Regions from separate parts of the Homo sapiens genome. Here region 2 is linked to region 1. The links come from fine-mapping of genetic effects on gene expression. A gene starts in region 1. The other region holds a variant in brackets. All regions are shown on one strand. Distances are between the middles of the regions. Region 1 holds the start of PKIG (cAMP-dependent protein kinase inhibitor gamma). Region 2 has its middle 28 kb from the start of PKIG.

What was found. PIP is the estimated chance that this variant, and not a neighbour inherited with it, causes the effect.
Region 2: its variant is fine-mapped to the expression of PKIG in breast (GTEx, PIP above 0.99). The same link has a PIP of 0.9 or more in subcutaneous fat.

Annotation. Positions count from the first base shown.
Region 1 is chr20:44,573,097-44,589,990 of GRCh38, reverse strand. It overlaps PKIG (cAMP-dependent protein kinase inhibitor gamma), which reads right to left and starts at 7,412. Exons shown (of 4, transcript NM_001281445.2): 1 at 7,260-7,412; 2 at 125-194. RefSeq lists an enhancer at 10,332-10,471.
Region 2 is chr20:44,546,351-44,563,244 of GRCh38, reverse strand. It overlaps a transcript of PKIG not described here. Among named protein-coding and RNA genes, the nearest start is that of PKIG, 28 kb to the left of the region's middle. The variant G/A (reference allele first, on the strand shown) is at 10,225.

The DNA.
Region 1 (16,894 bases):
GTCAAAATCTCCCACTAATTTAGTTTGGAACTTACGTATTTTCTTCCTTCAACCAGAAATAAAGATATTCAGGCAAAAACGTGTGCTGCTCTGGCAGTAGAGTATGAACAGTGCCACTACCTACCTGGTTTAATTTCTTTTTCCTGCTTGCATCTCTTCAGATTTTCCACTGTTGACTAATCAGTACGGGAATTCTAAGGAACCAGAAGAAAAACAAAAATTAGAGCCAGACATACTCTGGGATTATAAATTGAAACAATCTTTTGGGAAGACAAGTTGACAATATCTATTAACTTGTTAAATGTGCATACATATCCTTTGGGGTCAAATTCCTAGACACGTCACATTCCTGAAATGTCCAGGAATTTATACTACAGATATATTTACCTAAGTAAAAAGATACTCAGTGAAATACTGTATAGTAGCAAAACCAAGGGGCGAAAACAACTTAAATGTCTATTAATAGAAAAATAGTTAAATTATGGTGTATCAATATCATGAGAAACTATACAGCAACTTCAAAGAATGAAGGAGATTTCATTGTACTGATGTGGAAAAAAGTACATGCTTGATTGTTAAAAAGCATATTGTAAAATTGCATATATTATCATTTTTTAATTAAAAAAAGAACTTTACATTTTCTTTTTAATTTTAAGAGACCAGGTCTCACTCTGTCCCCAGGCTGGAGTGTACTGGTGCAATCATAGCTCAATGTAGCCTCAAACTCCTGGCCTCAAGCAATCATCCACTCTCAGCCACCTGACTAGTTGAGATTACAGGTGTGAACTACTGTGTCCTGCTCAAATGTGAACATGATTATTTATGTTTAGAAAAAAAAAAAGTACAGCATTTGTGTACGTGCACATTTTTAAAAAGTATACATACTTTACACTTTAAACAATTTTCAGTATATATAGAAAAGGGCAAACTGTAACCAATGGTTCCCCCTGGGAAACTTCTCTCTTTTGAAAAAAATTATTCTCTTTTGAGAAATTGTGAGAAAAGAAATGAAAGACTTTCACTTTGTACATTATCTATTTCTGTTTTGATTGAAAACTTTTAAAGAGGCATGTATAACTTTCACATTCATTACACATGCTATGCAAAAAATTCTATATCTAGCTAACATATCAAGTGTGAGGGCAAAAGATATTTTCAAACAAAGACTGGGCAAGTTTACCATTCACAGACCCCAAGAATATTCTCCAATAGAAAGGAAACTGAATACAGAAAATAAGTGAGATTTTTAGAATCAATAATGAGCAAAGGAAGGAATAATCCAGCACCCTTCTTTACTCCCTCTCCCTCCTTTACTCTTGGTATAAGTGACTCCATTTCTTTTTTTTTTTTTGAAAGTCTCACTCTGTCACCCAGGCTGGAGTGCAATGGCACAATCTCAGCTCACTGCAACCTCTGCCTCCCAAGTTTAAGCAATTCTTCCGCCTCAGCCTCCCAAGTAGCTGGGACTGCAGGTGCGTGCCACCGCGCCCGGCTAATTTTTGTATTTTTTTAGTACAGACGGGGTTTCACCATGTTGGCCAGGCTGATCTTGAAATACTGACCTCAGGTGATCCACTCGCCTTGGCCTCCCAAAGTGTTGGGATTACAGGCATGAGCCACCGCGCCCAGCCCTCTTCTCAGTTTGAATACCACCTTTTCAAGGAAGACCCCAGCCACACTCTCCTCTTTCACTCCCCCTGCTTATTGACTTCTTAACGCCACCATTTGTGCTTGTAAACTTCATGCAGGTAAAGGCCATGCCTGTTATATTTAACATCATCCACCTATCACCTTGCCCAGTGCCTGGCGGATATTAGGTTCTCAACAAATATTGGCTAAATACATGAAAAATTTATTGAAGGCTCAGCTCAAATGCTACTGCTCCTCCAATCTCTTAGGCTTTCTACAGGACTCTGTCCCCATCTTGGGGCACATTTTCACAATGTGTTCATGTTATCTGAGTCTTTTTTTCCTATCCGGCCATGAGCAACCTCAAAGTCTTATTTACCTCGACATTCCCCACCGCACCTTGCATAATGCCTAACACATAAAGGGTTCTTAGCAGTAGATGAATCTACACACACGTCCAGGAAAGTATAAATGATGGCCGCAGGCTCTAACCAATTGCAGATAGTAGTGATTGGAGCCCACAACACAAGCACCTTTGAGATATGCAAACAAACATGAGACTTTGCCCAGGGAGAAATTAAAATTAGAGCTAAACTTGAAATACAGCGGTATGTGGGTGGGGGGATTGGGAGACAGGCCCTTATTCAAAAACAGAGAAGTGAAATCACTGAGTGATGATTTATTTTAAGTGTGTTTTTCTGTACTATCTAGCTTTTCTTCCCTTGAACATATTCTAATTTTGCAATCAGAAAAAAAAAATCCACAATAAATGTTATAAAAACAAACCAACGGAAAATCAGTGGTGATTTTAGACTACAAAAGTCACCCGTCCCTCTGTTTCCTTACTACAACTTTGGACTTCAGATTCAGGGCCCTCTCAGGTGGGGCCCATACATTTTGTAAGGAAGTGTTCTTTCCACCCCTCTGAAGCCACGGGGGATAGGAAGGTGCCAGAAATGAGTGCTTCAGCAGGGGCAGCTCTCAGTTGCTCCCTAATGCAAATGCTGGCAAAGCTCCCAGAGCCAGGAATTGTAGGGAGAGAGCAGAAGGAATCAACCCAGCGCAAGATCAGGACCTCCACAATATGCTGATCCAGTGTCTGGTGTTTTGTAGCACTTGTGCATATTTCTTTTGCAGTACTTTTCACGTGCCATTAAAATTATTCACTCCTCTGTCTATCTTCCCTTGTTGCACAGAGAATTCCACAAGACCAGAGGCAGTGTCTTTACCCTGGTCCTCTAGTTCAGTGCTTAGTACTAACAGGTCCTCAATGTACATTTATGGAATGTTAAAGACTACACTGATAAAGTACTAAAACAGTAACTGACCTAGGTTCCTGGGACATAGTAAGAATACACCAAATACTTTCTTCGGTGCCATGAAGGGCCATTATTCAGTTCTGAAGAGTCAAGCTAAAGCCTGTAATTTCTTGAAACATTAAAGAGACTTCTTTTTGGAAATGCAGCTTCCTCCAGTAAGAGCGGATACATTATGTGTTCTAATCTGCAATTCATAATCAGTCAGCATAGGAGCCCACGGCAACTTCCAAAGAAACCACTCTTTGAAGGAGCAGTACTCCAAGTTTTCCTAAGACATTTCTGAAGGATTTCCAGGAGGTAGTGAGCTCAGCCTAGGGTCATGATTAATAACCTGTTTCCCAGAACTTTAGATTTTCCACCTCAGTCTCCACTTAGGAATTGCTTCTGGCCCCTCGTGAAAGCATTTGGCAGAGTTAATTGGGCCAGTTCAGCTTCTTGTCTGTCACAGCCAGCACCTGTTACCAGCTTCTTCCTTAAGTGGCTGGGCTAGGGTCCTCTGGTCCCAAGAGAATAGCACCCACTTCTGCTTTTGGCCTCAGCACTGGCTGGCTGATTTGAGGTTCAGCATCACTTGACTGGGTGACAGGAAATAATGCTGAGGCTTGGTTTGAAGAGCCAACATGGCAGCTCCAGGGTTCATCACAGGGGTTTCAAAATGATGAGTTCAAAGATAACTTCTGGTTCCTCATGCAAATGCCATCCTATGTCTGAGGGGGCAGATGCCTGTGTACATTGGCTGACATTCTCTTTCTGGAAATTGAGAGCAGCTAATCCTAAGCATGTATTTTTGTACTAACTAAGTGCTTTATGAGCCCTATCTCATTTCATCCGCATGGCACCCCTTTGAGGTCAGTATGACTGTGACCCCCCACTTGACAGAAAGAGAAGTAGGTTCTATAAAGTGAGGTGATCAGTCCAGGATCTCCCAGCTAGGAGGCGGTGAAAGCAGAGCTCTTACCTGCTATCCCCTTCCAATTTCTCACTGAACTCGAGAGCTCTCACCTGCTGTCCCTTTCCAATTTCTCACTGAACTCAAGAGCTCTCACCTGCTATCTCTTTCCAATTTGTCACTGAACTCTAGAGCTCTTACCTGCTATTCCTTTCCAATTTCTCACTGAACTCGAGAGCTCTTACCTGCTACCCCTTTCCAATTTCTCACTGCCCTCTAGATTGTCTAAATCGAAAGAAACGGTAGACACCAACCAGATGCAGGGCTGCAAATTCCCACAGGGGCCAGGGGCCAGGCAGGAGACTAGAGGGCACAGGGGAATGCGCAAATGGTAATGAACTGGAGAACACACCTGCCTAAAGGCATTCAAATTAAAAACAAAACACCACTCTGACTTCTGACTAGAGTTCACTTGTCATCATTTAACAGATGGAGCAACTGAGATCCAGGGAGGTGATATGAAAAAGGCACTGCAGTATGGTGAAATATTCAAGGGCTTCGGGGACAACCAGTTCTCATTGGGAACTCAAGCTCTAGCCCCTGCCAGCTGTGAGACTCTGGGCAATCCACTGCACCTCTCTGTGCCTTTCTTAGGTGTAAAATGGAGATGATCTCTGCCTCACATCATTGCTGTGAAGATTAAGAGAAGTCAGCATATGCAAGATGCCCAGCCCTGTGTGTGACATTTATTTCAGGAAGATACCAAAGCCAAATGAGATCTCTGGACACATCTTTTCCACAACCTACCTCCACTCCCAAGATGCCCTAAACTCACTGCCGGGAGTGACTGAGGTGGGAGAGATCAGCAAACACACACTGATAACAGGAGCAACTTTGACACACAAAACAAGAACTGAAAGCCACCCTCATCTGGTACATGAAGGCCTACCTAGTTGAGGAGTGTGAGGCATTCCACATTTCCACTCTCCACTTCCTGGCAGGGACCACAAAGTCTAGGTACCTTCCTTCCAGAACATCACCTCCTCACCACCACCTTAGGAAAAAGGATGCCTTTTTTGATTACCCCAAATCTCAAGATCCCAGCGGGGCTGGGATGAAGCAGAGGATGCCCTGGCCTTCCCACTGCCCATGCCCATGGGTGGGTCCATGGCAGCAACAGTCCACCTTCATGGGATGAAATGCTGGGGAAGACTGCAGCTTTAGAAGTGCCAAGAGACCCCATCTCTACTAAAAATACAAAAATTAGCTGGGCGTGGTGGCAGGCGCCTGTAATCCCAGCTATTCGAGGGGCTGAGGCAGGAGAATCCCTTGAACAAAAACGGGAGGTGGAAGCTGCAGTGAGCCAAGACTGCACCATTGCACTCCAGCCTGGGAGACAGAGTGAGACTCCGTCTCAAAAAAAAAAAAAAAGAAGTGCCAAGGGCCTTTGAGAACCCTCTTATTAACTAGGACCTTAATTCAAACAAATAGTTTCTAAATACCACAACTTCCTGAGGATTAGGGTCTCTGATGCCCTTAAAGAAAACAAAACAAACAAACAAAAACAAAACAAAACAAAGCAAAAACCTTAATTTGTCAAGACCCGGCACCTTGGAAACTCAAAATTCAAGATCTGACGTCTTTTGCTTTTTTTTTTTTTTTTTTGCACTCTGGCTGTGGCTATCCTTCCCTTGTGGCAGGAGAGGGTGGCTCTATGTTAAATGATGAAAGAGGGGCAAATAGAGGGATTTTCCCCCTTCTTCTCCCTCTTTCTTGCCAAATGAGGAACTAGGATGGCGGGCTTTAAGTTTAAATTAAGTTGTGTCTCCTTTGTACCTATGTGCCAGGCTTTCTACTAGGCAGTGGGGCATAGTGATGGGCTAGACAGACACGCAGAGAAGGTGCAGATGGTCTAGTGGAGACATGGGGAATTGAAGTTATGCCAGTAATTATGTAAATACAGTTTAGTTCAGGATAATATGAAAACATATAAGTAGATGGTTGTCCTCAGTCAATGGGGTTAGGGAATAATACTGACCATCTAGTGCTCTGTAAAGGGTTGAGCATAACATAGGGCCTAGTGCTTAAGAGATACTCAATAATGCCAATTCCTTCTTTCCTCTCTCCCCAAGTGTATGTGCTAGTGTATGCGTGTGCACATACAGTTACCACTGAGACTTTTTCTTTCTCTTTCTTCAAGAACACCTAATCTGAAAAAGACCCATAAAAACTCAGAAGTAACTTAATGTTGCCTGTTTTATGTCTTCTTTTAACTGTCCTACAGGCACCCGTTTTTAGCTACTCTGGGAAACTGAAAACCTAGGGTCCTTTGCTCCTAAAGCCATAAGGGCCCAATACAAAGGGAAAAGAAATATGGACAGTTCATTTCATACTGAATTTGGAAATACAGAGATCATCTAGTTTTGTCCCCTCATTAGGTACAAATAAAGAAACAAGACCCAGAGAGTGTGAAACACTTGCCCAAGGTGACAGTTTCCTTGGGTGACCCTTCTAATATATGGTAGCTTTTTGTTGAAGCTGAAATCTTCCCGTTAGCTGTAACTTTTCAAATATACTTAACCTGCTAAGAGGGGACACCTCCCCTGTTAGCACACTGCAAGCCATCTCAAGCCACCTAGGAATCCTCCTCAGTTCAGGGACCCACCAAGTAAGGGACCTGGGTACAGCAAGGGCCCCCTCTTTCCCTCTCTACAGAGTAGCTTGCTTAGTTTCAAACCCTGAAAACAGATACCAACAAATAAAATGCCTAAAGGCTTACATGTCCTGTTTATATTCCAGGCATAAACAGCAAATTTTTAAAAGGAAGCAATAAAAAGATCGCAAACCCAAGGTTAAAGATTTCCAACCCCTTTCCATCTTGGAGTTTTCCACACAGCTGCTGCAGCACTGGGTTTATATGTGGTAAATTCATGGAGTCTGACCATATCTGTAACTGAAATTTAACACAACAACCATGTTCCTGAGGGGGAAGATAATAGGGAATTTTCACTACTTTCGGAGACTTTTCTTTCTAGAATGTTTAAAAATTATTATACCACCTTTGTAATCAGAAAAAAAGAAAGGGTTTTACAAACACGAATTTCTTAGGGAAGATTTATTTCTTCACCTATATTTGGAGCAAGGAGCTGCTTTTAAAGCTCTGAATACTCTGTCAAAGTTCTTTGAGTAAAAATGAAACAGCATCTGAATGGAGCCCATTTGTGAGACTGGAGGCTCCGACTAGCCTTAGGCAGTTTCAGACAAGGCCATAATTTTCAGAGCAAGCTCACATATATCATTATATAAAAATAGACATTTTGTGGCCAACAGGCTGGAAAGCAAGCTCTCCAGAGAGCTCTGCCTCCAAGCTCTGCTTCTCCCTGGGGGTGTTGGGCAGGGGAGGAGAGTAAAGTTCTACTTACAAGACCAAAGTTTCCTCAAAATCCAGTGGTCCTCAGTCAGAAGCGGAGGCAGAATTTAAGAAACCAGGATTCAAGGTTAGCAGTCCAGACCTGTGGTGCGGGCAGGATTCTCACTTTACCCTCCTCTCTGTCTCTTCCCCGTGTCTCCTAAATGAAAAGCACTTTGAGGTTTTAGTGGGTGTTTCCCATGTCTCGGGCCAAGTAAGTCCCCATTTGTTGTAATCCAATGCTCAGCCTGATGATGTCAACCACACAACTCACTCACTCAGTTTCCACCTCTCTGTCCACAGGAGAGATCCATTTCCTTTGGACAATGAGCCAGGGGGCTGTAACTGCATCCCAGGCCACCACGCTTGCCTAATATCCTTCCTTCAATTTTCAACCCTGCAGCTTTAGTGACAAAAGGCTTCCTATCCACTCACTGAGCCAGGGTTCCTGGGTAAATTCCTTTGCTTCTTAGTGGGTTGTCTGCTTTCCTGTGTGTTTAATTCCTTTCTTTGGTATATAATATACTAGTTAGGGTGGAGATCTTCACCCCACCCCACACCCATCTCTTTCTTCCTGCCCAATTTTCCAAGTTGTTTCATTTCTCCCAGGTCTCCTAGGTACATGCTGGGCACAGTACATGAGTTTGTCCTTCATGTAGGGGAGGTGATGTGTGCCCCCGGGGAAGGCTTGGAAACAGCACTGGTGTGTCCCCTGGGAAACTGGGTTCCAGTCTTGGTCAGGCCTTCAACTGAATGAATGACCTCAAGCAAGTCACATCCCTCTCTGGACCTCAGTTTCCCTATCAACAAAATGCTGGCTTTGGTGCTTTCCACTTCTGAGATTCAATGAGTAAAAATCAGTGACTGGGGAACTTATAAACAAATGCATTATAGAGCATTTTACTACAAGCTACCCAACTACATGCTTGAGGGAAGGAAGAACCCTGGAGAAGTCAGAGGCCACTGCCCAAGATGCCAGGCTCAGCTGGGCACCTTTAACCCCCTTTATGAAGGAGATGAACAGATTCTCTGGGAGTAAAACCAAAAGAATTCACTGAACAAGTCCTTAGGGACATGAAAAGCAGCAGCATAAACTACAAGATAAGACAAACAAGTAACAGGCTATAAGTGTCCTTAGGGACCAACATGGAACAGCAGTGGTTACGAGAGATCATTTCTTGCATTTGGAGAGTGCTTGATGGTAAAGACAAAGAACATCTCTCTACTTTCGTGTACAATGGGGAGCGAGTGACATGCATAGTGGTTAGGAACATCATTTGGGAGCCACAGATGTGGATCTGAGTCCTGTCTGACTTAATTTCTCTGAACTTCAGTTTTTTTAACTGTCAAGTGGGATACTAGTGCCTCTGTTTTAGGATTGTGAGAATTAAAAAACACATGTAAGGAAACTGAAAGTATTTGGTACATACTAAGTATTGAATAAATGTTTGCTCTCGTTGTACATAATCTCATTTGATTCTCATAACATCCTTAGGAGAATCAGATAAGTGCTATGAGGCTACATTATTAATCTCTCCTTCCTGGATAAGAAGACATATACAGAGAAGTTAGGTGACATGCCCAAGGTCACACAGCTCAAAACGAAAGGGACAGAATTAGAAATGAAGCCTCAACTCCTAACTAGGTCAGCACACATGCCACACACATGCCAATGCCAATGCCATTTCTCAAAGTGGTTGCCGCAGCCAGCCTGGGAAAGGAAACACTCAGGCCACTAGGTCAGAGAGGCTGCTTTCCTTGCTTTGCTACCCAAATCCTGTGTGGCCTGAAGCAAGACTGGGCTTCAACTAACTCCCTCAAAAGGAGCAGATCTGATCTGTTTCAATGCCACTTTGATGGTGATGGGAAGGTAGGACCGGAGCTTTACTGGGAAAGCGGCTCTCTATAGGTAAGGAAGAGGCTGTGGTAATTTGTGGTTTAACAAGAATTTTTATTAGTTCTCAGAAAACACAGATGCTTATCAGAAAACATCCAAGAAAACAGGCTATATTAGGAGGGAGTTTGTCAATCTGAAGGCTTTTCAACAATGTGACAATGTGACGTAGGACTGCTGTGGAATAAAAACCACACCAGCCTGGCCGGGCGCGGTGGCTCACACCTGTAATCCTAGCACTTTGGGAGGCCGAGGTGGGTGGATTGCCTGAGCTCAGGAGTTTGAGACCAGCTTGGGCAACACGGTGAAACTCCATCTCTACTAAAATACAAAAAAAATTAGTCAGGCGTGGTGGCGTGTTCCTGTAGTCCCAGCTACTTGGGAGGCTGAGACAGAAGAATTGCTTGAACCCAGGAGATGGAGGTTGCAGTGAGCCGAGATTGCACCACTGCACTCCAGCTTGGGCGACAGTGAGACTCTGTCTTTAAAAAAAAAACAAAAAACAAAAAACAAAACAAAACAAAAAAACACCAGCCTGGTAACCCACAGAGAGCAGCCGTTCACAGCTCAGAGAGATGTGGGCTTCCTTCTGGTCCCTAGACCTTCTTGCTGTGCTTTGGTTTCCCAGTGTAAAATGAGAAGAATAACAGCCTTACTCTCCAAGGTTCTTGTGTGGGTTATGTGCCTGGCACATACTATACATTGAAAAATATTTGAATACTTCTTGTCTAATTCTGACCATTTCATCATCCTTTGCCCTAATGGTGATGTGACAATGAAAGAAAGTCAGAGATTGGTCGGGAAGTCAAAAGGGTCCTGTATTTCTCCAGAATGTCACGATGAGTAATGAACAAAAGCCCACCCAGAGCTGTAAGGCCTGTTCTCAGCAGCAACACTCAGTTTGGAGGGACTGGAGGTCAGGGCTATTGTTTGGCTGAGCCTTTATTCCAGAAGACTGAGTAGGTGTCAGGAAATGAGGCTGGGCTCTTGAAGATGGGTGCTTTGAATCATGTTTTGTTACTTGAACAAAAATAATAGTAAGGAGCCCATTCATAAAAACAACATCATTTTCTTCAACAACATGTACTCTGTATCACTTCCCTTGTGAACGGAATAATTCTACGTCTGTGACAGAATCCCGGAAGACAGAACCATAGCAACACTGGCACATTCATTTCTTCTTATAACTGACAATACTGGACACACTTATGTGGGCTGGGGCCAAGCTGTGCACTGAGCACTCTATGAACACCACTTCATGTCATCCTCACAATAATCGGGTGCAGGAGACATTATTAATATTCACATCTTACAGCTGTAGCAACAGATGCATGGTGAGCCGACCAACCTGCTCAAAGGCTCACGGGAGCAAGGGGCAGAGCCTGCACTCTAACTAGGGACCATGTGGTGCCAGTCCTGAATCCACAACCCCCTTGCACTACCACCTCTTAAAGGGCTTCCCTTCAGGAAACTTGGCTGTTTTTCACAGACAGCAGCATCAGCTCCATTTGAGGATGAAGGAAACTTTGGCTGTTTAATTCCACCTTTTACCCCCAGTTTAGAAGGGGTCTCTCCTTCCTCTGAATTTCCTTAGTATGCTCTGTTTCTCTCTTAAGAAACATACCCTTTTCTCTGATGACACATATTTAGTTGGGGGCAGGTCTTTTTTCTCTGCCAGAATCCTAACTTTTTAAGGAAAAGATCTGTGTCTAATATAGCAGCATTTTGTACATATTATGAGATACTTATTAAAATAAGGAAATCCATAAACAAACCCCAAAACTATTATTGTATATTTACCATATGCCAGGTAATATTCTGTTTATTTTATTTATTTATGTTGTAGAGACGGGGGTCTCACCATACGCCCAGGCTGGTTTTGAACTCCTGAGCTCAAGTGATCTGCCTGCCTTGGCCTCCCAAAGTGTTGGGATTACAGGTGTGAGCCACCGTGCCTGGTTGTATTCTAACTGCTTTATATAAATTACCTCATTTAACCCCATAAGGATCTCTATGAGGTAGGTATAATTATTATCCCTGCTTGACACATGAGAAAATCACAGGCACAGATTGATTAATTTGTTACGCAGTGTTAGTCCGTTTGCACTGCTATAAAGGAATACCTGAGGCTGAATAATTTATGATGAAAAGAGGTTTATTTGGCTCACAGTTCTGCAGACTGTATAAGAAGCATGGCACTAGCATCTGCTTCTGGTGAGGCCTTAGGAAGCTTTTAGACATGGTAGAGGGAAAGGAGAGCCGGAATGTTGCATGGCAAGATGGAGAGCAAGTGTGAGAGGGAGAAGTGCCAGGTTCTTTTTAAACAACCAGGGCCAGGCACAGTGGCTGACGCCTGTAATCCCAGCACTTTGGGAGGCCAAGGCAGGCAGATCACCTGAGGTCAGGAGTTCAAGACAGCCTGGCCAACATGGTGAAACACCGTCTCTACTAAAAATACAAAAATTAGCTGGGCATGGTGGTGCACACATGTAGTCCCTTGCATTTTTTTTTTTTTTTTTTTTGAGATGGAGTCTCAGGCTGGAGTACAGTGGTGCAATCTCGGCTCACTGCAAGCTCCGCCTCCCAGGTTCACGCCATTCTCCTGCCTCAGCCTCCCGAGTAACTGGGACTACAGGCGCCCACCACCATGCCCGGCTAATTTTTTTGTATGCTTAGTAGAGATGGGGTTTCACCGTGTTAACCAGGATGGTCTCGATCTCCCGACCTCGTGATCCGCCCACCTTGGCCTCCCAAAGTGCTGGGATTACAGGCATGAGCCACCATGCCCGGCCAAAATAATTTTTTTTAATTAAAAAATAACCAGTTCTCACTTGAACTAACCGAACAAGAACTCACTCATTACAGCAGGGAGGGGATCACGCCATTCATGAGAGATCTGTACGCATAACCCACACACCTCCCACCAGGGCCCACTTCCAACACTGGGGTTCACATTTCAACATGACATCCAACAGCTATCCACCAATATAGTTAGACATCCAAACTATATCAGCTAGCAACTGACGGATATCTGTTGAAGGAGTATATGAATAAAGAAATTCTGGCCACCACTACCCACTTTCTAGTCCACACAGCTGCTGTACAGTGCAATCGCTCATCACCCATCAAAGGCAGGTTTCAGCTGTCATACCATTTCCAACTCACTTATTCACTGTGCCATGCAGTTAGAAGGTCCATGCTTTTTCTAGACAATTAATTGAGAAGTATATTGATTGAGATTTACGAATAAAAGTAGATTTTGTTTTCTTCCAATTATAATCATAATTGCTTATTGTAAAAAGATAAGAAAATACAGAAGAACAGGAAAAAAGAAAGGAGAACAATACATCGTCTCACCACAATCCTGGTGTAAGGCCCCAGAGAAGGAACCACACTTACACTTAAAACAATGTTCTTGGTCAAGCACGGTGGCTGACGCTTGTAATCCCAGCACTTTGGGAGGCTGAGGCGAGCAGGTCACTTGAGGTCAGGAGTTCGAGACCAGCCTGGCCAACATGGTGAAACCCTGTCTCTACTAAAAAAAACACAAAAAAATTAGCTGGGCGTGGTGGTGCACACCTGTAGTCCCAGCTACTCAGGAGGCTCCCAGCTACTCGGGAGGCTGAGGCAGGAGAATTGCTTGAACCTGGGAGGCAGAGGTTGCAGTGAGATGAGATCATGCCACAGCATTCCAGCCTGGGTGACAGAATGATAATCTGTCTCAAAAAAAAAACCACACACACATACACACAATGTTTTGAAATCAGAAACTTAAGTCATTTTTGGGGGATGGGGAATCAAACCCACAAAAGATGACTAAGACATTGCTCAACGTATTTTTTTGGTTTTGGAGTACACGTGGCTGCTTTTTCTTCAGGGTTCGATGTCCTGAGGATCCACTTTGTGGTCCCCTTTGGACTGCTGATTTGGTGTGTCTGAAGGAGAGCCAGAAGGAGAAGAGAAGCCTGACCCCAGTGATTATGTGGCTAGAAACTGGATAGGTTCGCAGGATATCACACTGTCCCCTCCCTGCCTTTTTTCAAACCACTTCCCACCAGCTTGAGATAAGTTTCCAACTACAGCTGTTTTGGGAGAGATGGACCTTCACTTAAACAGTGACCTTAACTTTAAACAGTCTTGGACTCATTGATTTTTGCAGCTGAAAGGAGCATGTGGTCTCCTCATTTTAGGGGTGAGGAATGCCAGATCCAGAGAAGGCAAGGGACTATCCTGAGGTAGTACAGCCTGGTGCTCCAACAGGAGAAGGTTTGAGGCTCTCACTTGCTACTCTCTATTGGTCTCAGACTCTCACTTGCTACTGCACTTTGACATACAAATTTGAAGGGCTCTTCCCTCTTATTTTGGTTAACTCCTACTCAGCCATCAGATTTCAGATTAAATATCACTTCCCTAGGGCGCCCTTTTCTCTGAGCCACGTTAGCTCCCCCTGCTGTACTGGTCTCATGGTACTCCTATGTCTCTTCTTATAACCCTTAACATATTTATAAGTACACGTTCCATGTGTTTCCCCACCAGACTGTAAGCTCCACAAAGTCAACAGTATGTCTCCTTGGTTCACTGAATACATCTATCCCAAGTGCCTAGAAGAGTGCCTGGCATAAAATAGGAAACTCAATAAATATTTTCTAAACACACACACACACACACACACACACACACACACACACACACTCTACTTAGTCCAGTCTATGGTAAAACATTAACATACTTTTTGTAAAAAGCACCACGTCTTCTGAACTACAAATTGGGCCTTTTTGCTGAAGGAAGGATCATTAGAGAACAAGGGATTTCATTTCAAATAATTTCCGGAAGATAGAAAAAGTTCAGAGAGGTATGACAACAGAAGCTGAAGTTTGGAGCACAAGGACAAGAAAGCACCATTGGAAATGAGAGACAAGGAATGGTGTGGGACCCCAGGGAGGCTCTGAACCTGAAGACAGCAGGCGTCGAGAAGATTCAGAAGGGCCAAAAAATTAAGGGATCCACTGAAGGTCCTGTGCCAGCCAGCTCCTCTATCCCATACCTGCAGCACACAGAGGGCCCAAAAGCTCTGCAGAACCACAGCCAAAGACAGGAGGCCTCTTTAAATAAATTGAATGAACTGCCTAGGATTGATCGAGGGCTTCTAGTAAGAGACTGGCCTCCTTATGCTAACACGTGAAGGGCCCTCAGTCTAACTGCTGCTCCTGCTCATGTGCCCTAAAGCATCTTCCACTTAGTACCTTAGTACCCTTCCAGTACCCAGCAGCTTCCCAGGCAGGGCAGAGGCCTATGGGACAAACAGATGAACTGAGACCTATCCCCTTAAAGAAGTCTTTTATTATTGATTGTGAATGGCCAAATAAAGCATGACAGGATGTCTGATCAAAACCAGCTGCATGACAGGAGTTTGAGACCAGCCTGGCCAACATGGCAAAACCCCATCTCTACTAAAAATACAAAAATTGGCTGGGCGTGGTGGCAGGTGCCTGTAATCTCAGCTACTCCGGAGGCAGAGGCAGGAGCATCGTTTGAACCCAGGATGCAGAAGTTGCAGTGAGCCGAGATCATGCCATTGCACTCCAGCGTGGGTGACGGCCAGCCTCCGTCTCAAAAATAAAAATACAAAAATTAGCCAGGCATGGTGGCGCATGCCTGTAATCCCAGCTACTTGGGAGGCTGAGGCAGGAGAACTACTTGAACCTTGGGAGGTGGAGGTTGCAGTGAGCTGAGATGGTGCCACTGCACTCCAGCCTGGGCAATAGAGCGAGACTGTCTCAAAAACAAACAAAAAACTGATGAGTCAAGAAAAAGCAGTATGGTAATGTGAGGTCCTTGTTTGGATCTGACTAGAACTAAAAAAATAACTTATGAGTTAAATGGAGACCACTGCTAATAATAAAGGATTATTAATTATTTTATGTGTGATAGTGTGGTTATATTTTTAAAAGGAGTCCTTATTCTCTTAAAAGTACATGCTAGGCTGGGCACGGTAGCTCACGCCTGTAATCTCAACACTTTGGGAGGCCAAGGCAGGTAGATCACCTGAGGTCAGGAGTTCGAGACCAGCCTAATATGGTGAAACCCTGTCTCTACTAAAAATAAAAAAATTAGCTGGGCATGGTGGCGTGTGCCTGTAGTCCCACCTGCCTGGGAGGCTGAGACAGGAGAACTGCTTGAACCAGGGAGGTGGAGGTAGCAGTGAGCCAAGATCGTACCACTGCACTCCAGCCTGGGTGACAGGCGACATTGCAAAAACAAAAACAAAAACAAAAACAAAAACAAAAAAAACATGCTGAAGTAATTACTGATAAAATGATGTCTAGAATTTACTCCAAAATAATCTAGTGGCAGGGGAAAATGGCTACCAGCACAGATGAAACAAAACTGGTCATGGGTTTTTGATTTTTGAAGCCGGGTAATGGGTGGTACATGAGGATTCATTATACTATTCTTTCTAGTTTTGTACATGTTTCAAAATTTCTGTAATACAGTTAAAAAAAACCATATCTCGATAAGCATATTATTTAGATATAGAGAGATAAATGCTAGATCAAACGCCTAAAAGGATCAAAAGTGTATGCCCTTGGGAGCAGGATAGGAGGAAGGGTAAAGAAAGGGTGGGGGCAGGGAACAGATGGTTTTTATTACAAATCTTTTATGATATTTGACCTTAAAAAGACTAAGGCAAACTATGTGCATGTACCTTTCTGACAAAAACAAAATTCATTTAAAAAAGGAAATGGGAGTAACATTATTTAGAGAAATAGAAGTAACCACCAAAAGAAGTAAAAGCAGAAAAATAAAATGGCTGCCTCAGGGTGAGGGGTAAGCAGGAGACAGATGCCTTTCTAGACTCAGAGACTTTTTAAAAAGTCATATTCATGTATTACTTGGATTTTTTAAAGTTAGCTATTATTATCAGTTGCTACTATCAGTTACTAGCAGGGCCTTTTGCTAATCTCTACATCTATAAACTGAATACTTCCTTAGGTTTAGAATCCTAAATCACCCAGAGTGAATATATCCACATTAAGTGTAATAATAACAATTATTGCTATTCAACTATTGTTTGCCATTTGTCAGTGCTTTACATATGTTATTTCTAATCCTTCTAACACTCCTGCAAGGCAAGTATAGATGTTCCCATTTTACAGATGAAAAGGTTGAGGCTGAGAGACATTAGCCACTTGCTTGAGGTCACAGTGTGGGCGAGGCCTGTGAGACTCAAACACCAAGCTCCTTCCATTACCCTACTTCTCCTTTGCATTCCATTTGTTCGGTATAGTCCAGAAAGTACCTTTACATAAATTTTCTCATCAACCCCAAGAAACAGGAGGGACATGACTATCTTTACTTGACAAATGAAGAAATCAAAGCTAGGAAAAGTTACGTAACTTGCGCAAGAATCCAGGCTCCTGATCCTTAATCTAGTACTCCTTCTACCATTCCTTATGTCCTCTCAACAACAAAATGTTAAATTAGTCATAATCTCCTCATAGGCATTTGACATAAGAGTCACTGCACATGAATGCAGCAATGCAGCTAAAGCAGGAATTTTAAAGAGAGAGAGAGGGGGAGACATTTTTTCCAAAGGAAATATACTAATAAACTATGGACTGTCCTCAGTTGCTCTAATGACAGCATGTTGCTGGAGTCCTCAAAGGGACTCTTGAAATGTCAGCAGCCTGCCTGCCTGGCACAGAGCAGATGAGTTGCTGGCACAGGCAGCCTGCAGCAGTTCTGACAACCAG
Region 2 (16,894 bases), 27 kb after region 1:
AGGGCTTATGATTTTTCCTTTCTCATAATGTCACTGTCAGGTTTTTTGTTTTGCTAATCTCTTTCTATTCTCAGGAAGCATTTGTGTAATATTAATTCTTTCTCTTAAGTGCTTGGTAGACTCCTAGTGATGGGCTAGTAGTCTTCTTTAAGGGAAGAGTTTAACTGCTGATTCCATTTGGTTTCTGTTTTTTTTTAAATGGAGTCTCATTCTTTCAACCAGACTGGAGTGCAATGGCACGATCTCCACTCACTGCAACCTCCGCCTCCTGGGTTCAAGCGATTCTCCTGCTTCAGTCTCCCAAGCAGCTGGCACAGGCCACCACGCCCAGCTAATTTTTGTATTTTTAGTAGAGATGGGGTTTCGCCATGTTGGCCAGACTGGTCTCGAACTTCTGACCTTAGGTGATCCTCCTGCCTTGGCCTCCCAAAGTGGTGGGATTACAGGCGTGAGCCACCATGCCCAGATGACTCCATTTTTATTAATAGTTATATTACTAATAAATTTATCCATTCATCTAAATTTTCAAAATTTTGGTTTAAAATTATTCATAGTATTCATAGTATCATTATTTTGTTAATGAGTATACTATCTCCCTTTTTCACTCTTTTTTTTTAAGCACTCTTTTTTTTTTTTTTTTTTTGAGACAGGGTCTCACTGTGTCCCCTAGGCTGGAGTGCAGTGGCACGATCTAGGCTCACTGCAGCCTCCCCCTCCAAGACTCAAGCCATCCTCCCACCTCAGCATCCTGAGTGGCTGGGACTACAGGCACACACCACCACACCTGGCTAATTTTTGTAGAGATGGCGTTTGGCCATGTTGCCCAGGCTGGTCTCAAACTCCGGAGCTCAAGTGATTTGCCCGCCTCGGTCCCCCAAAGTACTGGGATTAAAGGCTGGGCCCAGCCCCCTCTTTTTCATTCTTGATTTTGGTTATTTGTGCTCCTTTCTTTATTTCTGTCTTCCTTTTCTTGATCAACCTAATCAGAGTATTATCATTTTTATTAATCTTTTCTAAGAATCATACTTTGGCTTCATTGATTTTCCCTGCTATACATTTGCTTTATACTTCATAACTTCTACTCTTTTCATTCTTTCTTTCCCTTTATTTTCTTTCTTTTAGAGACAGGGTAGGTGGGGTCTCACTATGCTGCCCAGGCTGGCCTCCAACTCAAGCAATCTTCCCATTGCAGCCTTCCAAGCAGCTTGGACTACAGGCATGCACCACCATGCCTAGCTTCTCTTTATCTTCTTCAGAATTATTTTGCTGTGTTTTCTCTGACTTACAAAATGTGATCTGACTTACAAGATGGATGCTTGCTCAGTTTTTAGCTTTTAGCTTTTCTTTAAGGCTATACACTTTTGAATCTGCAAATTCATCTTTCTGCAGTTCTAGAAAATGATCATCAATTATCTCTTCAAATATTGCTTCTGCACCATTCTTGCTCCACTCATTTTGTAATTCTAATTAAATGTATATTAAAGCTGGGCGCAGTCCCACCTATTTACCTGAGGTGGGAGGATCACTTGAGGCCAGAAGTTTGAGGCCACAGTGTGCCATGATCTCACCTGGGAATAGCCACTGCACTTCAGCCTGGACACTGCAGCAAGAAAAAACTTGAAAAAAAAATTTTTTTAAATGCATATTAGAACTTGTCACTGGATCGTTTTAATTCTCTAATCATCTTTTCTATATTTTACATTTTTTAAATCTCTTGAAGGTTTATTCTGGAGAATTTTCTTCTATCTTCTAGTTCACTAGTTCTCTCTTGCTAGGTAATCTACTTTAAATACATCCACTGCATTCTTGTTTTTGATTATTATATGTTTTGGTTCTAGAATGTCTATTTGGATTTTTTCAAATCTGCTGTCACTTTTGACAGTGTCTACTTACTGACTTTTTTTTTTTGAGACGGAGTCTCGCACTGTCACCCAGGCTGGAATACACTGGTGCGATCTCGGCTCACTGCAACTTCTGCCTCCCGGGTTCAAGCGATTCTCCTGCCTCAGCCTCTCAAGTAGCTGAGATCACAGGCGCCCGCCACCACATCCAGCTAATTTTTTGTATTTTTAGTAGAGATGGGGTTTCACTATGTTGGTCAGGCTGGTCTTGAATTCCTGACCTGGTGATCCACCTGCCTAGGCCTCCCAAAGGGCTGGGATTACAGGCGTGAGCCATCACACCCGGCCCATTGTGACGTTTTTATCTTGGCTTCTATTTCTTTTTGCATAGTAAATACAGTGTTTTACATTCTGCATCTGAAATTCCAGTATCTCATGGCTTTGATACTTTTGTTGTATATGGCTTTTGCTAATTCTTTTCATGGTATCTTATTTCTTTGTGAACCTGGTTTTAATCCCATGTGCTAGTGATTACATAAAAAATTATTTAGAGGACTATTTTGATGTCCGGGATGATAACATCTTCCTCGAGAGAAAATTTGCATTTGCTTCTGCCAGCTGCCTGATGGCATTATTACTTGAGAACCATAATGATGAAAGATCTTGGTCTACATTCCCTACACCTAGAAGCTTGGTGGCAAGGCTATTGTGAGGGTTGGCTTAGTTCAAGTTCCCTCTTATGCCCTTAGGGGTTCCATTCAAACTAAAAAAGTGGTTTATCTGATTCCCCATCCTTGACGGACAACAAGCTAAGAATTCTGTCCTCATATATGAAGACACCAAAAATACAGCTTAACCTAAAAAATGCTTTCTCGGGATCAGCAAATGCTTCCAGAACAAAAATGGCTTTGGTAGCTATGCTTACCTGATAAATACTGAAACTCTATACCTCAGAAACTTGGACTTCCCTTTTCACCTGGTGTGACACTTTGTGGCTTTTGCTGAATATATGGCCATAAATAACTTTGTATCTTGTAAGTTAAAAGCCAGTTCACTTTGTAGATGGGAGTGTAAACCAGTGAAAGCTTCTAAGCATGAATTACAATATACATCACAATGGTATTTATTTATTTATTTATTTATTTATTTATTTAGAGACAAGGTCTGGCTCTATCACCTAGGCTCCTGTGCAGTGGCACAATCTCTGGTCACTGCAACCTCCGCCTCCCCAGCTCAAACCATCCTCCCACCTCAGCCTCCTGAGTAGCTGGAACTACAGGTGTGCAACACCATGCCCAGCTAATTTTCTTTTTTCTTTCCTTCTTTCTTTTTTTTTTTGTATTTTTTTCATATTTTCTTCTCCGGGTTTTGCCCATGAAAAAAATGTTGCCCAGGCTGGTCTGGAACTCATGAGCTCAAGTGATCCGCCCACCTCAGCCTCTCAGTTTTGGAATTACAGGCATGAGCCACCATGCCCGGCGCTACATCAAAATGTTAAATATACATACTCTCTGATCCAGCACAGTCTTCTTGAAATTAATCTCACAGATATACTTACAAAAATGCACAAAGACATAAATAATTTTCTTTGCAGCAGTGGTTTTTGCTAGTAAAAAATTGAATATGACAATCTGAATATTCACCAAGAAGTGGCTAGTTATTAATACATAAATTATGGCATGTTTATACAATAGAATACCAATGTAATGGAAATGTATCATTTTTTAAGTTTTCCAACATCCAGTCACTTCTTTCTATTTGGGGGTACTTCCCCATTGTGCATAGTCTCACTGGGACTCTGAACCTTAAAAAATGACACTATGACAAAGGAACAGTTGGAATTTATTCCTGACAGTGTCCAAGGGCAGTGATGGCAACATACTGGCCTGGCTGCTTCAGCTAAAACAGGATGATGATTCCCTGGCCTGCCTTGGTTCTGATAATTTGGAAGCCTTGTCTGACACCCCTTCTGTACATTCCCTGCTTCTGTTACTCAAAGCCAAAAGGTTTGTAAGTGATACAACCATGAAGTCATTTAAAAGAATAAAATGTATCTATGTGAACAATAGCAGTAGAATAGTTTGTATAATATGATCTCATTTATAGATTTTTTAAGCAACCAATAGATTTTATATTTATGTTTGGACATGCATAATTTCTGGAAGAATTATCCAGGAAATTGTTAAGAATGGTTTACTTCTACGAAATGAGAATGGAGATTTAGGGGAAAGGGGAGAAGAAATCTTACTTAAATATTCTGCACCTTTTAAAAACTTTAATTATTTTTTAAAAGTTTATTTTAAGAAGAAAAACAGGCAGATGAGATGGACTGCTCTGAAGCTGAGATAAACTGAAATCTTTAGGTGCTTATACATACTGAGGGCCATTCAAAGCCAAAGCCCCCTGTCATTCTTTAGGTGATAAGTGATAAGGAATGACATGTGCAAAGAAGGGTTTAGGCATAACTTCAGCAGAAGGAGCTTTATTAGCTGGGCACAGTGGCACGCATTTATAGTCCCAGCTACTTGGGAGACTGAGGCAGGAGCATCACTTGAGCTGTGGAGGTGGAGGCTGCAGTGAGCTGTCATCATGCCACTGCACTCCAGCCTGGGCAACAGAGCAAGACCCTGTAAGAAAGAAAGAAAGAAAATGAAAAGAAAGGAAGGAAGGGAAGGAAGGGAAAGAAGGGAAGAAAGAAAGAGAAGAGAGAGAAAAAGAGAAAGAAAGAAAGAGAGAGAGGAAGGAAGGAAGGAGAAAGAAAAAAAGAAAGAATGAAAAAGAAAGAATGAGAAAGAAAGAAAGAAAGAAAGAAAGAAAGAAAGAAAGAAAAAAGAAAAAAAGAAAGAAAAAGAAATGTGAGGTTGGACTGGAGTGTTGGCAGTAGGAATGGAATAGAAGGGAATAGTCCAAAAGATAAGATGATTTTCTCTCTCTTACAATTATTTGTTACCCAAATACTTACTATTTTAGAGTGTCAAGCACAGGACAAAAGATATCTGAACTTTACCAAAATCAACCAATCGATCAATCATATAGTCCACATATCAAGTCTCAGTTCTCCCACCCACAAAATGGAGAGAATAAAATGCCTAACTCATAGGATTATTATAAGGGTTAAAGGAAGCTATGTATGTAAAATATATGAAGTGTTCCATAAATGTTAACTACCAGTACTACTAATATTACTATTACTACCACAATGATGAGGACAATTTAAAAAGCAACCTCTCCGTATATTAGAATAGGACTCAAGTATATCTAAATAGCATACCTTTCAGAAACACATTTACAGTATGGAAAGGGATGGCATAGAGTACATATTCATTGTCCTTTTTAAAAATATTATAGTCATTTAAAGACAAAGTTTTATTACTAATGACTAGTGATTTTATGGGGGTTATCTTATAGAAAGCTAGTCAACTTTGGAGAAATAGTGAGGTTCCTAGTCCCTCTGCTATGCAAAGGCTGCCTCCTGAGTTCTCAGACATGGAAAAGCCTTAGGAATCCAAAAGAGCACCAAGTCTCATGTTTGTACCATATACTCCACCACAGCTTTTTTTTTTATTATTTTTTATTTTTTGAGATGGAGTCTTGCTCTGCCACCCAGGCTGGAGTGCAGTGGCGTGATCTTCACTCACTGCAAGCTCCACCTGCCAGGTTCACGCCATTCTCCTGCCTCAGCCTCCTGAGCAGCTGGGACTACAGGTGCCCGCCACCACGGCTGGCTAATTTTTTTTTTTTTTTTTTAGTAGAGACAGTGTTTCATTGTGTTAGCCAGGATGGTCTCTATCTCCTGACCTTGTGATCCACCCACCTCAGCCTCCCAAAGTGTTGGGATTACAGGCGTAAGCCACCGCACCTGGCCTTTTTTTTTTTTTTTTTTGTCACCTGTCACCTGTCACCCAGCTGGAGTGCAGTGGTGCGATCTCGGCTCACAGCAACCTCTGCCTCCCAGGTTCACGCAATTCCCCTGCAGCAACCTCCCGAGTAGCTGGGACTACAGGCGCTCGCCACCACACCAGCTAATTTTTGTCTTTTTAGTGGAGACGAGGTTCCACCACGTTGGCCAGGCTGGTCTCCAACTCCTGACCTTGTCAAGTGACCCACCTTCCTTTGCCTCCCGAAGTGCTGGGATTACAGGGGTGAGCCACCGCGCCCAGCCCACCACAGTTCTTAGAGACCAAGGAATAAGGGTATAGTTTTTTTTAAAACATTTACTGTTCAGGAAAGGCTGAAAAATAGTACAAAGAAATGAAAAGTACAAGTCCCTCTCATTAAGTATAGATTACTCTAAATACACTGAAAATCCCAATAAAATCATTTATTTATATACGACCTTAATAGAATAGATAGATGCATGGCCCCCTTTTTAATTTTAATTAAGTACTCATATTGCAAGATGCATAAAACCCCCAGCAGTTTATTTTAAAACTGCAAACAATCCTGGAAGGCTTGAATAATGAGCTTGACAAATTGGAGACTTTTATTCCACTATCATAAAAATAATGAGTGGGGCTTTTTGAAAAGCATGGCATATTCCAAAGGTTTAGAAGAAAGAAAATCTTATGAAGGAGACTTAAACCTATATATCTAGTATTATTTTTACATACCAATTTGAGAAAACTAATAAAGCCAACAAATATCTATCAACCCTCTACTCTGCCATAAATAAAAAAGAAAAAAAGAAATGTTTCACTTGGAATCCAAATTTAGTACAGATCTTCATTAACTTACTACTATTGGCCAGGCGCGGTGGCTCATGCCTGTAATCCCAGCACTTTGAGAGGACAAGGGGGGCAGATCACCTGAGGTCAGGAGTTCAAGACCAGCGTGGCCAACATGGTGAAACCCCGTCTCTACTAAAAATACAAAAATTAGCCAGGCATGGTGGCACACGCTTGTAATCCCAGCTACTCAGAAGGCTGAGACAGGAGAATCACTTGAACCCAGGAGGCAGAGGTTGCAGTGAGCCGAGATCGCGCCACTGCATTCCAGCCTGGGTGACAGAACCAGACTCCATCTCAAAAAACAAACAAACAAACAAAAATCTTACTACTAATATTAGCCAAAAGACACTATTATGGCTAATAATTAAGTTTTGGTTGTAACATATGTGGGATAATGTGATATATAAGCCAAACACACTTTTTTTAAGCTCAGAGATTCAGCTAAATGAGAACAGAAAATAAAAAGATTATTTTAGGTAATAAATGATGTAGTTGTTCAGAGTAATAAAGCAGCAATAAACTTTAAATTAGGTCTCTAGGCTGGGTGTGGTGGCTCATGCCTGTAATCCCAGCACTTTGGGAGGCCAAGGCGGGTGAATCATGAGTTCAGGAGATCGAGACCATCCTGGCTAACAGGGTGAAACCCTGCCTCTACTAAAAATACAAAAATTAGCCAGGCATGGTGGCACGCACCTGTAGTCCCAGCTACTTGGGAGGCTGAGGCAGGAGAATCGCCTGAACCTGGGAGGCAGAAGTTGCCGTGAGCAGAGATCACGCCATTGCACTATTCCAGCCTGGGTGACACAGCGAGACTCCGTCTCAAAAAAATAAAATAAAATAAAATAAATAAAGTAGGTCTCTAATATTCCTCCCAACTCTTGGGTTTTATGACCTTATCACACAAGTATTTTCTTGTTAAAAAAAATGAGGTTCCCTAGCAAGTGGACAAAAAATAAATATACATATATGTGGAACAATAAAATAATCTATACACATATACACACACAAAATGAGTGGGAGTACTAAGATGAAAGAAATATTTTCAGAGTATGAACAGGATGCTTTTCAGATGAAATCCTCAAGTATCAACAAAGAACTGTGGGTGAGCTTAAATCATGTGGGCCTAAACTACTCTGTAACTTATCTAAAGCCAACAGGATGGTATCTCTGAATTTAGACACAGAAAGATACATGGTAGTTTGGATATTTAGAAGGATTTAGTTTAAAGCCAATGTTTACAAGAATATTTATAAACTTACATAAAACCTATAGAATTTGGCAAGCTTTGGAGAGACAAACAAACAATTCTGGTCAGAAATGAACTTCCTGTAAATAGATGTCAGTGTTTTGACAGTACACTGTTAAGCACTATTCCTTATAGTTTTTGTAAAAGGAATAAAACAAAGGTAGAGAATACACACATCTCTCAATACATTTTCATGTTTGTTTACTTGTTTGTTTTCAATTGAAATTAAAACATTTCTTAATTTCTAATACTGACGATAATTCTATCGATAGTATCTTTTCTTTTTTCTTTAAGAATAACATCAACAAAAATAATAATGACAACATCAACAAAAATAGCACAGTAACATGTTAAATGATTTCTGGCAGTCTGTCAAAAATACAGATATTAAAACAGATATTAAAATAGGACACTTAAATGATATTAAGCTTCAACAAATCTGTAAAACCCAAAACCGTAACAATTTTTAATACCCTACTCTCAGAAAAGAAAAAATGTCACATTACTATAGAACAAAAGTAAATCAATAAGATGATTATTTTCCTGTATCTTATCGAGTTGGGGGAAATCCTGTCTCTGTAGGTGCCCCCACGCCCCCTGCCCTTTTCAGAAGACTTTCTTCAAACTGCAGGTAGCCTGGAAGTCTTCCCAGAAAATCTTTGAAAAAACACAGTCTGTTGTCTTCTGCATAGACACTTTGGATCTTACAAAGCACTTAGAGGTTTGTCCTCTGCTAAAAACAAGTTAGGAAAACCAAGAATCTGTTTTTTGCCCCCAAGCTGGAAGCTCCTGCCCACCAGCAAACTACTGCCTATTCCAGCTCTGTCCCCACTGGTACTTGCCACCCCCTCACCCCCTCACCCTTGTCCCAGTTCTTAGCTAGCAATTAGCATCAAGTCTGGACCCTGCTCAAAAACCCATCCTTCCCCTTGCTCTGACTACCAAGTTAAAAGTTCCTACTCAAAATGGGGTGTTGGTTACATAGGTATATGCATTTGTCATGAGCATTTCACTATATGTTAAATTTATCTGGATTAAAAAATTTTTTAGGCCTTGCACAGTGGCTCACACTTATAATCCTAGCACTTTGGGAGGCTGAGGTGGGTGAATCACTTGAGGCCGGAGTTCGAGACCAGCCTGACCAACATGGTGAAACCCTGTCTCTACTAAAAATACAAAAAAAAAATTAGCCAGGCATGGTGGTGTGTGCCTGTAATCCCAGGTACTGGGAAGGCTGAGGCACGAGAATTGCTTGAGCCTGCGAGGCAGAGGTTGCAGTGAACTGAGATTGAGATCATATCACAGCACTCCAGCCTGGGCGACAGAGCAAGATTCTGTCTCAAAAAAAAAAAAATTTTTTTTTAAATTAATAAACTGGTCTACAATGCTCTGCTGTCACTGTTAGCTTCTCTGAATTTATTTTGTGCCAAACTTCCCTCTCACTGTCCTTTGGTCACTTTTTTCAGCTTCTCCAAGGGCAAGCTCTTCTCTCGACCCCAAGACTCATAGCTCATTTCAGCATGTAATACTCTTCAGCCAACCCCACATTCCCCTAACTAACCCTTTTCTCCTAGTTAATGCCTACTCACCCCACCAGACTCAGCTTGGGTGCCTTTTCCTCCAAGGAGCCTTCCTTCCTCCCCTCACCCGTGTGCACAGGAACATGTTCACATATGCAGGCCAAGGCATCTCTCTGTTCCCTTAGCATTTACTATAAACGAGCATTAGAGTATAAGGTCCATGACAGCAGGCACTATGTTTTTATTAGTCACTGTCATAACCCTAGCACCAAGTATATCACAGATGATCAGTAAATGTTCATTTAATGAATGTTAAATGAAGGCACAAAGATATCAGTCATTCTGATCTATAAAGCTTCCTTCACCATTTTGCTGATCTAATGTGCTGTCTGGCCTCTCTGTTATCTGAAATCCATCTGTGAAGCTACCACAGCTCTGACTCTAATACTGCTTGGGTTTCCTATCTCAGAAGAGCAAACTTTCCAGGTTCAACTTAAGGCAACCATTTTCAAAGAGCAAAATGTGTTTACTCTTAACATGTACACTTCAGGCACTTGTCTAACCTCTCAGCCAACAGAAGTGGTTTGTCTAGACAAGGGTTTATGTGAGATATTCACTACATGGCGTTGGTCATACTGGCACTCCGAGGCAGCATAAACTTTAGCCTTTCCTGGGATGGAATTAATGACCTGATACCTTCAAGCTTTCAACTTTGGAAAATCACAAAAAAGTAAGTCAACTGATTCCCTAAAAATTCTCTCTCTTGCAAGGTTGTTATGAGGCGGTGGGAAGAAAAATGAGAAAGATGAGTCAGTGTGAGTCAGTGTTAAGAAAAAAGCTCTGCTTCTGGTAAACAGTTTGCTCTTTTACTGACAGGACTAGGATTACCC[G/A]ACTCCCACTTCTAAAAATACACAAATAACAGGTGGTATACATTATATAAGTGGTTCCAAAACACAGACTCAGATCATTGACTCTAAAAAGGGAACAGTTAATCAGCAATGAGCCAGACCTTCCCCAGAGCCTGCTTCTCGGAGAAGCCCCCAGACTAAGTAAGCATTTCCCTAAAGACAATTAAGATCCTAAATGCTTCCACTGCCCACTCAAGTGACCTAAAGGAATGACTGAACCTCCCTTACAATAACAACTACTTCATGAGCACCTACTACGTGCCAATAACTCTGCTAGGCTTCATACAATTCATCTTTAAACTTTACAACAATCCTGTAAGATGGTTGTTATTATCCATGTTTTACAGATAAGGAACCTGGCGCACAGGGGTTGGGTTAGATTTATATACAGTTGCATAGTGGCAGCACCAGATTTGATTCAAAAGTGCCTGCTTGTCTCCTTTCATTCCAAACTGAATTCAGAAATATATATGAATTACCCTGAGCAAGGCAATGCATCAGGTACTGCAGGGGATACAAGCTAGAAAAGGCTACTCCAATTATCAAGAAAGCAAAATTGGAAGTAAATGAGACTATGTAGGAGAGCTTCATCTCTCTATTTCCAAGATCCCAAACAAGGCCCGCCACACATAAGTTGCCCAGGAAATTACTACTGAAACATATGTGGAAGAAAAGGGAAACACACAATCAAATGTAACACAGGCAGTCTGTGCTTAGTGTCACAAGACAGAATGTGCTGTGATGATTTAGATTGTATCCTGATGGATGGCTTTGAGAAATACGCGCAAACAACGTGGCATTTGAGATAAGTCTGACAAACAGACTGACAGACAACAGAGAAAAGTAAAGAGATCAATGGAATATGTCAGGGGTAGTAACAGTTGAGACAAACCCTTTGGTACCTCTAGCAGCACAGGGAGAAATAAAGCTAGAAGAAACAGATTCTACATTGTGTTGGCCCTGAGTCTGCTTCAAGTCCCTTTTTATATAGAAAAGTGTAGCAATTACGAATATTTCCTAGCCGATTCCAATACACGGGGAGACACTCTTAATGGTTAAATAAATAAAAATCTGCTGTATAACCTTTTGTGGAACAAAGTGGTGGTGGTAGAATACAACAGAATAAATGAATATTTGTTTACAAATCTAGAGCATATGTGGTTGTAGAACTAAAGGAGAATTACAGATAAGTTCTACCACCTTTATTACCTCAACTCTGAATCATGATGATAAGGATTCTGTGACAGCACATTTTATTTTAATTTAACCTATAGCTCCTTCAGCAGAAGACCAGTCAAGTCAATGACACTCAACAGGCACAGCTGGCTAGAGGACTTTCTGGAAACGGAGGGGATGGGAGGCATTTTTTGGTTGACACAACAGTCAATTGTCTCCTCATTCAAATGGGCATTTAGTAGGTAGAGACCAAGATGTTAAACATCCAGCAAATTGAGGGGCTGTCTTATAGAAACAAAAATTGTCCCTTTACTCTGCTTGATTTTTAAATATCAAGATACTCATGTAAAGCTCTTTACAGTTATCTGAACCTAGAACTCCACTCCTTTTTGTCTGTAGCAAAGTACTTTTGCATGATTTTAGAGGCAATGTATTTTCCAAGAATGCATTTACCAAGTAAAAGGAAAATGTTGGGCCGGGCGCGGTGGCTCACGCCTGTAATCCCAGCACTTTGGGAGGCCGAGGTGGGCAGATCACAAGGTCAGGAGATCAAGACTATCCTGGCTAACACGGTGAAACCCCGTCTCTACTAAAAATACAAAAAAATTAGCCAGGCGTGGCGGCGTGTGCCTGTAGTCCCAGCTGCTGGGGAGGCTGAGGCAGGAGAGTGGTGTGAACCCGGGAGGCGAAGCTTGCAGTGAGCATCACTGCACTCCAGCCTGGGCGACAGAGCAAGACTCCGTCTCAAAAAAAAAACAGGAAAATGTTGCTTTGTTTTGTATTTAAGGAGTGAATTATAATGTCCATAATATATTTTCAAATAGTTCAGCAAAAAATTGAAATACACACATGCAGATAAACTATATGCAGCAAAATGTTAACAATTGTTTGGGCTAGGTTTTTGATACAGGTGCTCATTGTACTCTTGTTAATTTTTTTCCACATTTGAAATTTTTCATAATAAAAAGCTAGAGGGGAAATCTGGCCCTCATTAAGTGAGAGGTCATAATAGAGGTTAAGACCACTGACTCTAGAGCTCTGGGACCTTAGGCAGGTTACTGTCCCGCTCTCTGCCTCAGTTTCTCCATCTGTAACATAAGGATAATAATAGTACCTATTTCATGGAGCAGTTGTAAGGATTAGATGACTTAACAAAATGAAAGTTGTGGCTGGGCACAGTGGCCAAAGCTTTAGCACAAAAACGCCTGGGAAAGCTTCACCAGAGTCCTTCTCCACCATGACAACACTCCTCCTGCTCATTCCTTTTATCAAACAAGGGCAATTTTTGCGAGATTTCAATGGGAAATCACTGTGCACAGAAATCATTATGCATCCACCTTACAGTCCTGATTTGGCTCTTTCTGACTTCTTTTTGTTTCCTAATCTTAAGAAATCTTTAAAGGGAATCCATTTTTTTTTTCAGTTAATAATGTAAAAAAGACTGCATTAATATGGCTAAATTTCCAGAACCCTCAGTTCTTTAGGGACGGGCTAAATGGCCGGTATCATCACTACAATATTGCCTTGAACTTGATGGAGTTTATATTGAGAAATAAAGTTTATATTTTTCATTTTTATCTTTTAATTCAATTTTTTCCATGAATTTTTTGAAGTCCCCTTTTATGTATCTAACAACGCTTGTGTGAGAATTAAATGAGATAATATATATAAACACACAGCACAATGGTAAGCACATACTAGATGCTCACTACATATTTAAATGAAAGAATAAAACTGGTCCTAAAGATTCAATACATAAAAAACTAAGGTATACCTCAGGTGCTAGATAAAATTCCCCCAGGTCCTTCAGAAGTTAAAATTAGCTCCGAATTCCATTTTTAAATGATTAACAAGGAAGATCAAAGAGTACATTTAGATCTCTTCCTAACTCCCTTTTCACTGAAAGAGATATAATATTATCAAAGAAAAGTAAAGAATTCCTATAATTACAAAAATCCAAAACTTTTCTGTCACTTTCTCAAATGGAAGTTTGTTTTCTTTTGAGAAAAGATCTCATGCTGTTACCCAGGCTGGGGTGCAGTGGGGCAAACACAGCTCACTGCAGCTTCTACCTCCCGGGCTCAAGCCATCTTCGCACCTCAGCCTCCCAAGTAGCTGAGACTACAAGCATGTGATACCATGTCAGCTATTTTTTTCCATTTTTCGTAGAGATGGGGTTTTACTTTGTTGCCCAGGCTGGTCTTGAACTCCTGGGCTCAAGTGATCCTCCTGCCTTGGCCTCCCAAAGTGCTGCGATTATAGGTGTGAGCCACAGCGTCAAGCCTTAAATGGAAGTTTAAATTAGAAGTAACACATCTTCTAGTACAACACTGGCTGGATGACTACTGGAGATGATTTGTGCGGGAGCTTTTGAAAAGAAACATCAACAAAGTATAACGAAATCTCCAGAAAAATAATCCAGAAAAAAAGACTGTGTAATAGAACATTTACACAGAACAGTATATGGGGAAAAAAACGAACAGTTCATATGTCACTGGGACCAAATGATAGCTTCAGGATATTGCTCATTTTGAGATAAAACTGTATCTTGTACGTGTTTTTTTGTTATCTGGGCATAGAGTGGGGGTTTAGTTTGTTTGAATAAGTAAGTCTATAAAAGTACAAGATGCTATAAATCACAAATACTAAGAATGCCAAAAGTTTAGTATCTGAAAAAGCAAAAATCAAACTTTTAAAAAGTCAAATCCAAAAGGCAAGTGGTAGTTTTAAAAGTTTTAAAACTTCCTGAGAATTTAAGTCTGCAGCATTGACTTTCTGATCTGGGTTTATATAACTCTCATACCCAGGGGATGTGACAGCTGATTTTCTTGTCCAAACAAACACTGCAGAAAATTATTAAAACCATCAGGGATATTTCATTTCTCTTCCCACAGTATCTAATTATTATCTCAGACAGATATATGTGTGTGTGTGTGTGTGTGTGTGTGTGTGTGTGTGTGTGTGTGTGTGTGGTGGGAGGAGTGGCTGGATGAATGTCCTACATAATTAGAATTCTTTATAGTACTAAGGAGAAGGCAAAGTGTTTTGAAGTCTTAAAAGAAAACTGATTTTCTAAAGAAATTCTGGCTTTAGGAAAGTAGCTAAGTGATGTGTGGATGACAGAGCTATCTTTAATTAGGAGTTGAGCAAATTGTTATAAGCAAAATCTAGACAAATAAAGATGCTGTTTATATTTCAAAGACGGGGAAACAGACTGCTACAAAACTTGTCCAACACAAATCCCCAGCAAATAGTTTTCCTTAGGAAAACTATTTTTATCCCTTTATCAACTTGGTTGATAAGTATTTCATTTTCAGTGCATATATGGACAAGCTACATAAAGTAAAATTGTTTTCATTATTTAAAAAACATTTTGCAAACGGAAACAAAGCCTATTGTCCTGTAATGTTTATTTGCTAGGCTGACAAATGACTCTGCCACGAATATTATGAAGTCTCAGAATGAGAATACACAGAAGGAATTGGCTTGACTCCCGAAAAAACCTCCAGAAACATGGTCCCTCCCTCCAGACTAGAAAACCACTCTGGAAAATTGTGATTAATGTTAATTAACCCAGAACATATTTACATATATTATTCCACTGCCTGTGTGGGATAAGATGCTACCTTTTTTGGGTTTTTTTGTTTTTCTAGACAGTCTTGCTCTATCATCCAGGCTGGAGTGCAGTTGTGCGATCTCGGCTCACTGCAACCTCCACCTCCCAAGTTCAAGTAATTCTCCTGCCCCAGCATCCTGAGTAGCTGGGATTACAGGTGCACAACACCACACCCGGCTAATTTTTTGTATTTTTAGTAGAGACGAGGTTTCACCATGTTGGCCAGGCTGATCTCGAACTCCTGATCTCCAGTGATCCGCCTGCCTCAGCCTCTCAAAGTGCTGGAATTACAAGTCATGAGCCACCATGCCCAGCCTATTTTTAATGGAGAACAGGGTTCTCCATTAAAACCAACACCATGTTGGTTAGGCTGGTCTCAAATTCCTGAATTGAAATGATCCGCCCACCTTGGCCTCCCAAACTGCTGGGATTACAGGAATGAGCAACCGCGCCCCGCCAATGCTATGTTTAAGATGTTATTACTATTCCCATTTTTTCCGACGAAGAAACTGCAGCTCAGAAAGGTCGGTGTCCAAAGTCACCAAGTTAGTAAGTGCCACAGCTCCCACATTCAGCTCCCACAAACTACGCAGGAGTGATAGTAATGGTGGTGGGAGCACTTAGGCTGTACTCACCATGTGTGAGGCATTGTTCTTCCCACTTTCCTATGTCAACTCAAGTGATCCTCAAGACAACTCCTATGAGGCAGGTTTGTATTTGGGCCACCAGCCTCCTCTTTCTCTACCCTGCTCACCACACATGGCCTGCTTCTCTCCCCACAAAATCAAAATCAGCATCCTGATGTCATCATATTCTCTCTACCCTTATCCTAAATCAAAATTTGCTCTAAAATGCTGGTAATTGTTGAAGCTTGATTATAGATAATGGAGGTTTCTTTATACCATTCTCTCTACTTTTGCTTATATTTGAAATTACCTTATAAACATTTAACATTTTTTGCTCCAACACGGAATGTAAGCTATTGAAAAGGCTACAAGACTAGCTCCACTGACAATGAATTCAAAGGAAGTGTTACTGAAGATGTCTATGCAATAATAGAAGACAGTGACATTGATTCATTCTCTCATTCCATGAACATAAATTGAGCACCCATTGTATGTTAGGATGTACAGAGGTCCAAGGAAGGACTCCTGTCCTCAACAAGCTAAGAGTTTAGTAGCAGACACAAAATAAACACAAAGGTAATTATGGAGGAGGACTATTTATGAGAAATGTTATAAAAAGAAAAGTTTGAAGTGCTATGTGATTTGGAAAAAGAAATAACATCAGGACAAATTCCATTACATTGAACTCCCTGAGACATTCCAAACTTCACATTATTTAAAATCAGTGAGGGGCCTGGGTGCAGTGGCTCATATCTGTAATCCCAGCACTTTGGGACGCTGAGACGGGTGGAATTACCTGAGGTCAGGAGCTCGAGACCAACCTGGTCAACATGGTGAAACCCCGTTTCTACTAAAAATACAAAAATTAGCCGGGAGTGGTGGTGCATGCCTGTAGTCCCAGCTACCCGGGGGGCTGAGGCAGGAGAATCGCCTGAACTGGGAAGGTAGAGGCTACAGTGATCCAAGATTGTACCATTGCACTCCAGCATAAGCAACAAAGTAAGACTCTGTCTCAAAAAAAAAAGAACTCAAAAAAACAAAAAATATACTAGAGAAGATGTCTCTGGAAAGAAGTTCACCAGGGCACAATTTATAATGACCAACAATAAGGCCTGGTGATATTCATTTCAATTGATACACAGTAACCCATACATAACAACTTAAGAAACAAAGTAGAAGTTCTCTCCTTGATGGAATCAGAACTAATAATGGTATAACTCATTTTTTAAAAAAT